2 separate regions of the Homo sapiens genome follow, and region 2 is linked to region 1. A link means that fine-mapping ties the variant in region 1 to the expression of a gene that starts in the linked region. Tissue or cell type: whole blood. Region 1 holds a variant in brackets; the other region holds the start of a gene. All regions are shown on one strand. Distances are between the middles of the regions.

Region 1 (7,877 bases):
GATCCTCCCACCTCAGGCTCCTAAGTAGCTGGATCTACAGGTGTGTGCCACCTTGCCTGGCTAATTTTTTTATCTTACTTTTTATACAGATGAGGCCTTACTATATTGTCCAGGCTGGTCTCAAACTCCTGGCCTCAAGCGATCCTCCCACCTCAGCCTCCCAAAGCACTGGGATTACAGGCACACAGCACCACACCCAGCTTTGTCATTTGAATGGCTGGGCCCCACTTGAAGAAAGCTTATATGTTAAGAAAACTAAGCTTTAAAGGAGGGGATGGTTGAATGTTTACCCCAAAATTATAAAACAATTTACGGCCGGGTCCAGTGGCCCTGGGCAGCCAGGCTCTGGAGTCCCTGCTGTTGACTTCCATTCTGTTAACACCTGAGGGAGACAAACTCGGCTGCCGGCCCACCTCATACCTAAGTGCATAAAGCTGGTAGTTTTGATCAATTGCAGCCAGGCTGTACAGGCACAGGTAAATAGATATGTGAGAGAAACATCATCAGACGATTAAATGACAAGTTCTGAAGAGGAATTTTCTAGATCTCTAGATCAGGACCTGGAACAAAGCTGTAGGGAAAACCCCTTTCTATGTCACCTTCCTTCCTTATTCTGTGCTCTCAGGGCTGGGCAGCCTGAATTCATAGTCCTTTGGTTGGGCTGTTTGCCAGTTATCAGGTTGCCAGGTGTGAGCCAGATGTACCTGGGGAATGGGGGTACAGTCACCCCCAGTTGAGAACCCCTGCCTTAGAGAATGTGTAATAAATGCTTGCTGAAGAAACAGACTGGGTATCTTTCAAGTTCTTCCTTTTTCTCCGGGCACTGTCAGTGGGCACAAGAGGGACATAGGTGGGACACTCCTGCCTCCCCTGGACGCTCTTCCTGACACAGCCGCTGGGCATCTCCGAGCACACAGAGGCCCCATGCCTACACACTCCTGGGGCCCTGCATCACTGGCTTTAGGCCTGGGCCTAGGAGCTCTTGTCTTTCTTGGAGGGTGTGGGTGAAGCTGAGCTCTGGCTTCAGGAACAGATAAGCCATCTTAATTACAGAACGAGCATATGGGACAGCCTCAGCTTTGTAGAGAATTTCTTGCCCAGGCAACATTTTCCTTACTTTCAGTAAGTAAAATCCACGGAACGTCTTTTCTTGGTGAGAAGTAGATGGCCTGGCCTCAGGTACAGCCTGCTTTTGGACTCATTGTGTTGGTGTGACTCCTGTCTTTGCTTCCTTTCCCTCTCTCTCCAGAAAGGACCTAAGTGTGAAATACCCCGAAGACGTCCCCATCACCCTTCCAAACCTGTTGAGGTTCATTTTGCATCACTCAGACCCTGCTTCCAGCCCCCAGAATGTGGCTAACTCTCCTACCAAGGAGTGTCTTCAGAGCGAGGCAGTCTTACAGCGGGGGCACATCTCCCACTTGGAGAGAGAGATCCAGAAACTGAGAGCAGAAATAAGCAGCCTCCAGCGAGCACAAGTGCAGGTGGAGTCCCAGCTCTCCAGTGCCCGCAGAGATGAGCACCGGCTGCGGCAGCAGCAGCGGGCCCTGGAAGAGCAGCACAGCCTGCTCCACGCACACAGTGAGCAGCTGCAGGCCCTCTATGAGCAGAAGACACGTGAGCTGCAGGAGCTGGCCCGCAAGCTGCAGGAGCTGGCCGATGCCTCAGAAAACCTCCTTACCGAGAACACGTGGCTCAAGATCCTGGTGGCGACCATGGAGAGGAAACTGGAGGGCAGGGATGGAGCTGAAAGCCTGGCGGCCCAGAGAGAGGTCCACCCCAAGCAGCCTGAGCCCTCAGCCACCCCCCAGCTCCCTGGCAGCTCCCCTCCACCTGCCAATGTCAGCGCCACACTGGTGTCTGAAAGGAATAAGGAGAACAGGACAGACTAACTTTTTAAATGATATGAAGAAATCAGAGGTGAAAATTGTACATTGGGAATATATTTATGCAAATTTTATTGAAATTTATTGTAAATAAAGATTTTCTCAGTGGTCTAGAAAATCAGCTTGAATGTCATTCAGCATTTATTGAAGAAGGATGACATCCCTTCCACTTATTGCACAAACTTGGTAGCTTTGAGACAAATACAGTAGCACAGTCCGTTTGAAGATTTGTCCAAAAAATTAGTCCATATTTTAGTGGCTCAGTGTCAAGAGTTCCCTCCCTGTGCCCCCACTGTTGCTTCTGCAGTGATACGAAGGATGAATGCTTAATTTCTTATTAGTCAGAAAACTTGAATGCAACAGTTGGGCATTCAAAAATAATCCAGAGAGGTCATAACCTACTTAGCCATTTGAGTGTGGCTCTGGTGTCTGCTAAAAAAAGTAGCTATTGAAAAAACAGTGAGAGCTATGATGTGGTTCACTCATTCTAGAAGCATTTTCATTTTCCTCCCGAAAACCCCCCCAGTGCCTCACCGAGCCCCGGACCTTCACCCAACACGGCTGCCACGCTCAAATGGGCCTGATTCAAACTCCCAGGTACGTCCCTGGCACCAGGGAGTAGGATAAGAAAACCTCCAGAAGTGAAACTGATGAGGAAGTGACATTTAATCACTTCAAAACCGAAACTTCACTGGCAAGGTCAAAACCCCAGGCCAAGGCTGACAATCGAGCGCTGGTCAGTTCCAGGGGTCAGGCTCGGAACCTGAAAATGCAGATCCTAGCTGTTGCTGCGTCCCTCAGGTGTGGAGGAAGGAAAAACAGCCTAGGTGTATGTGCTGGCTGTGGTGAGAGTCGAGGTAGAAAGCCTGGAAGTTCTGAAACGTGAGGGGATGGATCACACGCCCCAGCCTTTTCTCACTCACCAAAGCAAACTTTTACCCCCTTCTTCCAGTCGGCACCTTTGGAACTTGTTCTCCCTCCTAGGCCTGGTTTCAGTGGCCCCCACCACGTGTCCTGCCCACCCAGCCTGCAGGGCTTCTGCTGACATCACGCCTACCCCACCACCACCTCTTCTGAACTTGCCACACCATCAGTAGCCAGAGGTGTTGCCTCTCCTGCTTCCTAAGGTCTCCCAAGAGCCCAGCTGAGGTGTTTCATTACCACCTTCTGCTCAGGTGGCCCAGCCGGCTGTCCCTCTTCCACCCCAAGCTCCTACTTAATGTTTAAACCCCCAATTTAGGTGTATGCTGCTTAAACGAACAGCTCCCTACTTCTCCCGCCTCGGGGTTCCAGAACGTGGATTCATTCAACATGGTTTTTAGAAGAGGCTTGGGTGAGGCCAGAGGAGGTGCCTTTAGTCTGAGCAGGAGGCCAGAGCTCTGAGCTCAGCCATGAAGGGCCAGTGCTCTGTGGTTAAGCCGGGGCTGACCTTCCATCTATTACAGGGATGGGCAGGCACGAGTCACATTTGAATCATAAATAAAATTAGTATGTGCTTGTGGTGGGATTAAAAATCAAAGTGAGCTCACTGAAATGTACATAGGGGAGGCCTTGGAGACAGGCTGTGGAGACACTAGCTCACCAGAGAGCCACCAGCTCACCACCTGTGGGAGAGTCAAGTCCTGAACTTCAAGTTCACCTCTGCCCTGCCCCGGCTCCCTGCCGCAAGCACAGGCTGGCAGGAAGCAGTCTGGTGGCTCTTAGGGGAATGTGCACGTGAGAAATGTTCCCTGGGTCCTAAGTGCCTTTAGAGCTGGGTCAGGGGACTGGAGACCCGCTGAGGAAAGTGAAGTCAGAACCCCATAGGCGGACGGTCATCAGAGAGGAAAGGAAGCCAAGTGATGTGAAGAGGGAAGAGGAAAAGAAGAAAAAAGACAGAACCTCAACAGTCCCCTCCCCTCCAGTGCAGAAAATAGGAAACACCAACACAAAACATACAACCTTTTCTCTTTCCTGGGCCAAGTGGGTTTCAGACCAAAAGTAGCCACCACAGGCTCTATGAGGACCAAAGCAATTTCAGCGAAGCCTTCACTCGGGGTGGAGGGTTGGTGGGGGGCTTGGCGTGCTGAAGACCCAAG[C/T]GGCAAGAAACTGCTCTGCTACAAGGACGCTGGCAGCCTCCAGGACGCGTGCCCTGACTCGCCCTTCACTGGCTCCCAGGCAGGTCCGGTAGCTTCCCTGCAGTAACTCCACTCTCAACAGAACTGCTATTTAACAAGTGAGTCTATGCAGAAAGAACGGAGGGGTGCGGGGGGTGTGGTTTTTCTTCCACCCATGACTAATGAAGCAGAGATCACCCAAGCACCCCAACTGGTCAGCCTCAAGACCCCAAATTGGCATCTCACTTCCTTGACATACACGCAGATGGACACACATGAGAGACCCCTGCCGAGTGTGGCGTGGGCCTTTACAAGCCTATGACCCTCCAGGGTCTTGACTCAGCTTGTCATTAGTACAGCCAGAATACCAGTCCCGTGTGCGCTAGATGATATTTTTAAAAATCAGCAAAAGGGCTTAAGCACGTGCTTCCAGGGGCCTATTTACAGTTCACAGGTTTGTTAGTTCACGCATTACAGTAGTAGCTCCATCAAAAACAGGCTCAGCTAGACATTCAAGTAACAAAAGCGCTACAGGGCCATGAGCCCCAGCAAGGTCAGGCCTGCCCAGTGCCTGCAATGGGCAGCCTCACCTGGAGGCCGAGGGGAAGCCCAGGACAGCCAGGTCCCCGGGCATCAGTGCATGCGATGACGAAGCCCGCAGAGGCCATGCCAGCAAGTGTCAGCCCTTCCTCTCAGACAGCAGCGCATCCGTATGGTTTTGCCCCTCCCAGCGCCTCTTGGCCGGCTGCAAACAGGACCAGGAGCCTTGCATCCTGGCTCAGCCGTGGACTTCCGGGCCGTTGGGAGTCATCAGCTTGGCCTTTCTCTCCACGCACGGTCCCTTGGCCGAATACTGCACCAGCAGGAAGGGTTCCTTGGTCTCCCCATCCCCCACGATGCTCTCCTCGTCCTCTGACTGGCTGATGCGCTGCAGCCGCAGGTAGCACCAGCAGCCCAGGATCAAGGCCCCCAGGGCCGCGATGGCAATGAGGATGACGATGACTGTGACCACGCCCGTGGTGGGGCTGTGGTCCATAATAGACATGGTCAGTGCTGGGGGCTTCCTCGGCTGGCAGCACTTTGGGGGTGGCCACTCAGTGAGGCTGGAACTCAGGCTGGACACGGGAGTCCTGAAAGACAAAGCAGGTTGACGAGCTGCGGTTAGCACTTCCACGGGGTCTATTTTTAATCGTTCTCAGACCTGCCCATCCCACCCTCACCCTGACAAAAAGCATGCTGGCCGGCGTTCGAAGGCGTCTGCTCACCCACGCTCACCCAGCTCCTGTTCATGACCTTTGAAACCCCGAGTGCTGCTGTACCAGGCAGGTGAGTCACCCTCGCTGGCGGCAGAGCCGGGAACACTGCGACAGCGACAGCTGCAGCAAAGGATGCCAGAGGGCCAGACATGGTTCTGGTTCTTCAGCTGAAGGTGTGCCTTCGGGAAGCCCAGCCCCAACTCAGTGTTCATGACCACTCAGGGACTGAGGGCAACTGGGGCCTCCTAATGGCCAGAGATGGGGGTTTGAAAGCAGATAAATGGCCAGGTGCAGTGACTCATGCCTGTAATTCCAGCACTTTGGAAGGCTGAGGCCGGCAGATCACTTGAGCCCAGGAGTTTGAGACCAGCCTGGCCAACATAGTGAAACCTCGTATCTACTAAAATACAATAATTAGCTGGGCATGGTGGCACATGCGTGTAATCCCAGTTACTTGGGAGGCTAAGGCATGAGAATTGCTTGAAGCTGGGGGGCAGAGGTTGCAGTGAGCCGAGATCTCACCACTGCGCTCTAGCCCTCCAGCCTGGGCGACAGGAGCAAGAGTCTCTTCAAAAAAAAAAAAAAAAAAAGAAAAAAAAAAGAAAAAGAAATGACAATGACATCAGTCCCTCTCCCAAACAGACATCATATACAGAACAGGCAGGTCCTTTGGGGACACCTGTGAGAGGGTGTACTGGACAACAGCCTTTGTCACCAGGCACTGCATCGGGCCTGGGAAGACCCCTGGAACGCGGCACACCATCTGAGAAGGAAGCTGGGCGGTAGAGTCCCTTGTGTGGTTTGGACGGAGGCCAACCAAGGAAGCAACAGGGTAGAGTGTCCCGGGAGATGGAGACAGGCACTTGGGAAAGCTTCGGGGAGGCAGGGAGGGTGAGACAGAGGCTCCCTCCCTGATGGTGCTTAGCATCTAATGCAGGCGCCAGACTGTAACTGGTTAGTACCCCAAATGCCGGTCACTCACAATACAGGGTGCCATTGTCAGGAACACAGCAACCAGGTGCCAAGATGCTAACCTGGGTGGGCAGGTGGGAGGCAGGGAGGCGGTGCTGATGGGGAATAGTGTTCCTGGCAGGGGGCACGGTGAGGGCTAAGGCTCTGAAGGCAGAGAGGGTCCCCCTGGCAAGTGCCAGGAGTCGGGGCACCAGCTGATTTGGGTGGGAGCGGGGATGAGGCCCCTCCCAGGCCAGGCCAAGCCTGTGCTCCACATGTTGAAAGAATGACGCCAGAAGTTGGAGGGCTGGGACCACCACCTCCACCTGGCCGAGCCACGGAGTTCACCCATGGGTGGGCCTGCCAAGTGGCGGAGGACAGTGTGGCTATGGAATGCACATAAGGTCTAAGAGTCCCCAGCTCCAGGCACCCTGTCAACCCTCTAGGTGACACCCAAGGCACAGCCAGTGAGAGCATGCTGAGGCCAGGGCTTTGCCTCTGCTGCCCCGCAGTGCTGAGGCTGGCAGGTTCTCTGGAGTCCCAAGACCCTGCACTTTCTTCCCTCTCCTGCCTCGCTCGCCACAAACAGAGCAAACGCTGGCTGCACCCGGGGTCAGTGAGGATGAGGACAGGCCCGAGACGCGTTCTACACAGGACTGGGCGTGCGGTCGGCACTCAGAACGACACGTCTGGCTTTTTGTTCCCTTTGGATAAGACTGACATCAGCACAGGCAGACAGCACTGGAAGGAGGTTTTCCCTCCAAATAGGGTCGAACCTGCTGCGTCCTTGAGGAACAGCACCCTTAAGGAGAAATGATTCTTACCCAACCAGGAGTTTCCCCAGAAGCCAGGTTTGCCTGAAGGACAAAGGCAGCTAAGTCAACGCCCCCAGCGTCTGTCCAGGGACCAGGCCCGGGGAAACCGGCAGCTTCTGCAGAGGGCCCTGGGCAGAGGAGGTGCCCTCCCTCCATTCCACTGCCTTCCCCCTGACTCCAGGAGACAGGCTGCCGCAGGCGCTAAGGATCTCCCTGCCCACCCTCAGGGGCCACTGCAGCCAGGACGCCTTCCAAGTCCTCACAATGACCTGCAGGACCGAACACTACACATCCCCAATATGCCCTGCTCGCCAGCCACGCTGACCCCCGCAACGAACCCTCCTACCAGGCCCTGGCCCAGGCAGTTGCCCCTGCCCAGAACGTTCTGGCGGCTTACCCTTGTTCAGTGGTTCTCAACTGGGGGCCACTGTGTCCCCACCCTGGGGACATCTGGCCATGTCTGGAGCCACTTCTGGTTGTCACAACTGGGGGCAGGTGGCACTCCTGGCATCAAGTAGGGAGACCATGGATATTGCTGGCACCTATCGTGCACAGGGCAGCCCCCACCACGCAGATGGCCCGGCTGGAGAAAGACACCCTGACCCGGTTAATACCAGCTCTGGCAGGGAAGCTTTCCCAACCCGGCCGGGCTCCTTCCCTCCGGAGCAGTGGCCTTGGCATGCAACCCTGGCTTCTGGAGCATGGCCACCTGATTAGCGCCCACCTCTCCCTCCAGCGGGCCATGAGCTCCACGGTGGCCCTGCTCTGTCCCCTGCATGTACAGACCACCCTGGCCTCTCCCCTGCCACCATCCGGTTCCACAACCCCACTTAGCTGTTCTCTCACGCCTCCAGACTGGACAGGGGACCCCTC
Region 2 (6,285 bases), 120 kb before region 1:
CATCACCTCAACAAGGGCTGGAGATGGGGATTCCAGGAAGCAGGCACACCCATACGCAGATGTCCTTTACTTTGCTCTCTGTGGTAGGCAGAATAATGGTTCCCCAAAGATGTCCACATGCTGACCCCAGTAACCTGTTACCTAGCAAAAGGGAGTTTGCTATTGGGATTAAGTTACAATCTTGAGATGAAGAGACCATCTTGGGTTATCCAGGTGGACCCAATGCAATCACAAGAGCTTTTTTTTTTTTTTTTTTTTTTGAGATGGAATCTCACTCTGTCACCCAGGCTGGAGTGCAGTGGCATGAGTGCCTCAGCCTTCCAAGTAGCTGGGATTACAGGCACCCGCCACAACGCCTGGCTAATTTTTGTATTTTTAGTACAGATGTGGTTCCGCCATGTTGGCCAGGCAGGTCTTGAACTCCTGGCCTCAAGCGATCCGCCCACCTCAGCCTCCCAGTGTTGTGATTACAGGCGGGAGCCACCGCATCAGGCTTTTTTCTTTTCTACATGCACCACTGCATTAGGATATCTCCTACTCACGCTTCTAATCAGATCTTAGCCTCAGGCTTGCTTGAGACATCCACTCCAGAAGTATTTAAGGGGTGCTACCTACTATCAAGGGGCTGAGAATATAGGACAAAAGAAACTGGTTTGGGCCAGGCGTGGTGGCTCATGCCTGTAATCCCAATACTTTGGAAGGCCGAGGTAGGTGGATCACCTGAGGTCAGGAGTTCAAGACCAGCCTGACCAACATGGAGAAACCCCGTCTCTACTAAAAATACAAAAATCAGCCGGGTGAGGTGGCGGCGCACGCCTGTAATCCAAGCTACTTGGGAGGCTGAGGCAGGAGAATCGCTTCAACCTGGGAGGCAGAGGTTGCAGTGAGCCAAGATTATGTATTGCACTCCAGCCTGGGCAACAAGAGCAAAACTCTGTCTCAAAAAGCAAAAACAAAACAAAACAAAAAAAGCAGAGTCTCTGCTCTCCTGTAGGGTTGGAGGCCGACCACAAACAAGCGCCCAAATGCCTGAGACAGGAACAGCACTGGGTGGTCACAGGAGGATGGAAAAACCCAAACAGCTGAAACAGGAACTAGGCAAATAAACCATAGGATAACAGAAAACCCAAGGGAGAGAAGATGGCCAAAACTCTGGCCAGGGTGACATGTCCATGCTTCTTCCAGCAAACCCAGATAAGGAAGAAAGGAGACAGTAATTGAGGTGGAGGTCCCTGAAATCCCCTCCCTTTCCAGAATGCCTAACGATAATTCCATCCTGTAACTAAAAGAAACACCCATAAAATTAGGAACCCAAACTCCATTGTGCAAGACTCATTCTCACGGGCATGCCTGCACTTCTCTCTTAAATGTGTATGTTCACTTTGCAATAAAAGCTTCTTGCAGCTCGGTGCAGTGTCTTACAACTGTAATGCCAGCACTTTGGGAGGTCAAGGTGGGAGGACTGCTTGAGCCCAGGAGTTTGGGACCAGCCTGGGCAACATGGCAAAACCCTGTCTCTACAAAAACAAAAAAAACCCCAAAAACTTAGCCGGTGTGGTACTAGTCCCAGCTGCTCAGGAAGCTGAGGTGGCGGGAATCACCCGAGCCCGGGAGATCAAGACTGCAGTGAGCCATGATTGCGCCTCTGTACTCCAGCCTGGGTGACAGACTGAGATCCTGTCTCAAAAAAAACAAAAACAACAAACAACAAAAAAAAACCTTCTTGCCCTTTGCTTCATTCAACTCATTCTTGAATTCTTTCTCTCCAAGGTGTCAAGAACCTGGAAACTGGCTGGGGCTGGGGTGTCACCAGTATCCAGAGACCTCCTGAGCCTTCTGGCAACAGGACTAGACGAGGTCATTTCAGATCATGATGACTGCTTGGAAGATCAGATAGGGCGCTGTGTTAGTGAGCAACTTTTAGATGGGCTGTCAGTGAAGGCCTCTCCAAGAGAGGCTACTGTAGTTGAGGCCTGAATGATGAGCAGCCTCTGGTCACGAGAATAATCCACCCCTTTCTTTTTCTTATTTTGTTTTGAGACGGAGTCTCGCTGTGTCGCCCAGGCTGGAGTACAGTGGCGCGATCTCGACTCACCACAACCTCCACCTCCCAGGTTCAAGTGATTCTCCTGCCTCAGCCTCCCCAGGAGCTGGGATTACAGGCGCCTGCCTCCATGCTTGGCTAATTTTTGTATTTTTAGTAGAGACAGGGTTTCACCATGTTGGCCAAGCTGGTCTTGAACTTCTGACCTCGTGATCCCCCTGCCTCGGCCTCCCAAAGTGCTGGGATTATAGATGTGAGCCAGTGCGCCCGGTATAATCCACCCCTTTCTTAGAGGAGCTTCCCTAAAACCACAGCCCATCAGCTCTCCAATATCTGTTGCAGCACTTACCTGGTGTTACGGACTGAAACGCTCCCCGCTCCGCACATACCCACCCCGGAGTCCGTATGTTGAAGCTCTAACCCTAATATGGCTATTAGGCATATTAGGCAGTCATTAGGGTTAAATGAAGTCATAGGACCCTTATACTTTTTTTTTTTTTTTTGGTACAGACTCTCTCTCTCGCCCAATATGGAGTGCAATGGCGCGATCTCAGCTCACTGCAACCTCTGCCTCCCAGGTTCAAGCGATTCTCCTGCCTCAGCCTCCCGAGTAGCTGGGATTACATGTGCACGTCGCCATGCCCGGCTAATTTTTTGTATTTTAGTAAAGACGGGGTCTCATTGTGTTGCCCAGGCTGGTCTCCAACTCCTGAGCTCAGGCAATCCATCTGCCTCGGCTTCCCAAAGTGCTAGAATTACAGGCGTGAGCCACTGCGCCTGGCCTAATACGACTATTTGAATACGGCCTTTTAGGTAGTCACTGGGGTTAAATGAAGTCATAGGGTGGGGCCCTAATCTAGTAAAATTGTTGTTCTTGTAAGAAAAAGGAAGACACACCAGGGATTCCTGCTCACAGAGAAAAGGTCATAGGAGGACACAGTGAGAAGGCAGCTGTTTGCAAGCCAGGGAGAGAGGCCTCACCAGAAACCAGCCCTGCCGGCACCCAGACCTTAGATTTGCAGCCTCTAAAACTGTGAGAAAATAAATTCCTGTTGTCTAAGCTGCCTGGTCTGGGGTATTTTGTCATGGCAGCCTGAGCTAATACTCTGGTTTGTAAATCTACGTCACCCAGACCCCTGGAAGAGCTACTGTAGCTAGAGTCCCCACTTCCCCTCTTGTCTCTCCTACAGCCCAATCTCTGCATAGTAGCAGGAGAGAACTTTCTAAAATATAAATGAGACCTCGGAACTCCCAATTCAGACTCAATGAATGACCCCCTTCCACACAAAACTCCAAATTAAACATGGCGGCCCCCCTGTGTCACAGATCTTTCTCCCCTCTGGCACACATCAGCTATGCAGGCCTTTCCTGTTATCCAGACACCGAACTCCAGCTTCAGGGCTTTTGCACTCATTTCCCCTCTGCCTGCGGCACACTTCCCCGAACACGGTTGCATGGCTGTCACCTCCTCAGAGGCTTTCCCAAAAGCTCCTGTCACATCCTCCTGCTTGAATTTCTTTGGTCTTCACCGACCAAAATGGTCTTCTTTGGGCTCTTGTGGGTCCTGATCTCCGCCCTCCATCCCATGGGGCAGGGACCCTGCCTCGCCCACTGCTGAGCTGAGCATTTTACAAGAAGCCGTGCCCGCAGCGGGGCACCTGGCCGTAAAATGCAGATGGACGAGGCGGCATTTGGGCTGGGCCCTGAAGGACAGGGATCCAGGCCTTCCAAGAGCCGGCAGATGGAACTGGAGGGAGGCTGTCTTTGGATCCCCGGCTGCCGTGGGGCTCCGCGCCTCCGTTCCTCATATGTAGGAATGAAGACAATCACGGTTGTTCTGAGGATGCAGGGTTACTCTTCGCAGAGCAGGGCGCCCCGGTTGAGGGCTCGTCAAGCTAAGCAGGCTCCAGGGTGGGCTTCCCGATGCCGACTCTAGCTCCTCTCCCCGCTGGACGCTGTTCTACCTCCTAGCGCTTCTGCTCAGGCCGCGGCCCAGGCGAGGCCCCAGAAAACCCCGGTGCTGGTTAATCAGTCTTGAGTCCGAGCGCGTCCAGTGCGCAACGTGGCCTTCCCATTGGCTCACCCAGTGGGCCGCGCGTCGACGCCGGGGCTCCGGATTGAACGGCGCGCCCAGGTCCCTGCCCCCAGTCAGACGTGGCGCCACCGCCCCCAGCCCGTAGCTCCGGCGCAGCCAATGGCGGCGTCTCCCGGGCGGCAAGCGCGGCCTCCCGCCGCTAGAGGGCGCCGCCGCGGGCGCAACCGAGCCGCTGCCGCCGCCGCTAACCGAGGGAGAGCTGCGAGCGAGCACCCAGGCCCCGCCGCCGCCGCCGCCACCGCTGCCCGCCTGCCGCCGCCCGCCTCCGCCTGCCTTCTGCCGCCGGCCGGCGCGTCGTCCCCACAGGTAGGGGTAGGGGGACGCCGCCGGGCATGAAGGAAACGCGCGCGCCCGCGCCCCCGCCCCCCCCGCGCGCGCCGCCGCCTCGTGCTCGCGCGCGGCCGTTAACGGACGGCGGGCGGGGCGGGGGAGGGGCGGCGGGGTCCGGGGCCCGCGGACCCGAGAGGACCCTGAGAGGAGCCGGGCCGGGGCCTGTGCGCGCGGAGGGACGGGTGGGCGCGCCGTCCCCTTCCCCCACCGAGAATAACGTGACCCACTTCTGCCTGCCATTCCCTCGGCAAAATGTCTCCTTTTTGGTGATTTCACTAAAAAAAAATTTTTTTTTTGGTTATTTCTGTCTGCTCTGGTGATCGCGGGGATCCCGATTCAGCGTCTTGGGCTTGGGGGCGGGAAGGATGCCGGCGGAGAGCTTGGCGCATTAATTTGGGGCTCATCCGTCTTTTTTACCCCCCTTTCTGATTTTTTTATTTTTTCGCGCGGGGTGCAGCCCTGGGCCGGGCGGGGAGAGGCCTTGGGGTCCGCGGAGGCGGGGGCGCCGCCCGGGAGGACCGGGACCGGGACCTGTCAGTTCCCATTAGCGGGGCTTCCGGTCAGGCCTGGGCAGCAAAGGGGTGGGGCCGCCTGAGGCCCGGCCGGGGCCTCCGAGGTCGAGCCTGAGTCGGGACTGGGTGGATTTGCCAGGAGTTGGGTATTTTCCTGTCCCCACCTGTCTAGGGATGAAAAGGAGTTGCCCGTGTTCGGTATTGAACCACGAAGGACCTTGCCATGCCCAGTACGGTGGCCACTGACCCCCCGCCGTTTGGGACGATGGAGCCCACGAAATGGGGCCAGTTTCAGTTGCGGTCCCAGCTGTGAAACGTACATCTGATTTTAAAAACTTCGGATGAGAAAGAAAGTAAAAGATGTCATTGGTAATCTTTTATACTTAAATGCATGTTGAGATGGTCATGTTTGGGACAAATTGGATTAACGAAAATAGATCATTAAAATTAATCTTGGCAGGATGCAGTGGCTCATGCCTGTCATCCCAAAACTTTGGGAGGCTGAGGCAGGAGGATCGTTTGAGTGCAGGAGTTCAAGACCAGCCTCAGCAACATAGTGAGACCCCTGTCTCTACAAAAAATACAAAAAATTAACTGGGCGTGGTGGCGCACGCCGGTAGTCAGCTACTCGGGAAGCTGAGGTGGGAGAATCTGCTACTCGGAAGGCTGGGGTGGGAGAATCCCTTGAGCCCAGGAGATTGAGGCTTCGGTGAGCTGAGATTGTGCCTTTGTGCTCCAGCCTGGGACACTGTCTCAAAACAAACAAATAAAAAAACAAAAGTTAATCTCACTGCTTTTCTTTTTCTCTTTTTTTAGTGTGGCTATTTGGAAATTTAAAATGACATATACGGGCCGGGCGGGGTGGCTCAACGTCTGTAATCCCAGCACTTTGGGAGGCCGAGGTGTGTGGATCACCTGAGGTCAGGAATTCCGAGACCAGCCTGGCCAACATGGAGAAACCCCGTCTCTAGTAAAAATACAAAAATCAGCCAGGCGTGGTGGCAGGCGCCTGTAATCCCAGCTACTGGGGAGGCTGAGGCAGGAGAATCGTTTGAACCGGGAGGCAGAGGTTGCAGTGAGCCGAGATTGTGCCACTGCACTCCTCCCTGGGCAACAGAGCGAGACTCCCTCTCCACATACATGCGTACATACATACATACATACAATGACACGTATGGCTTATTTTGTGTAATATATTTTGTACAATATTTCGACTGGACAGCGCGCAGCTGGGGCATCTGAATGGGTGGTGGCCCTGAGAAGACATGTCTATCTGCTTATCTTTCCTGCTTCTCTGATGGCAT

The links. PIP is the estimated chance that this variant, and not a neighbour inherited with it, causes the effect.
Region 2: ZC3H7A starts here. The variant in region 1 is fine-mapped to the expression of ZC3H7A in whole blood (INTERVAL, PIP 0.94).

The regions. Positions count from the first base shown.
Region 1 is chr16:11,673,210-11,681,086 of GRCh38, reverse strand. It overlaps SNN (stannin), which reads right to left. Exons shown (of 2, transcript NM_003498.6): 2 at 1,935-5,112. The coding sequence starts at 5,027. The coding sequence ends at 4,761. TXNDC11 (thioredoxin domain containing 11) reads left to right here. Exons shown (of 12, transcript NM_015914.7): 12 at 1,250-2,004. The coding sequence ends at 1,892. Among named protein-coding and RNA genes, the nearest start is that of SNN, 8.7 kb to the right of the region's middle. RefSeq lists an enhancer at 7,589-7,877. The variant C/T (reference allele first, on the strand shown) is at 3,965.
Region 2 is chr16:11,795,284-11,801,568 of GRCh38, reverse strand. It overlaps ZC3H7A (zinc finger CCCH-type containing 7A), which reads left to right and starts at 4,311. Exons shown (of 23, transcript NM_014153.4): 1 at 4,311-4,445. RefSeq lists silencers at 4,028-4,437, 4,920-5,079 and an enhancer at 4,075-4,612.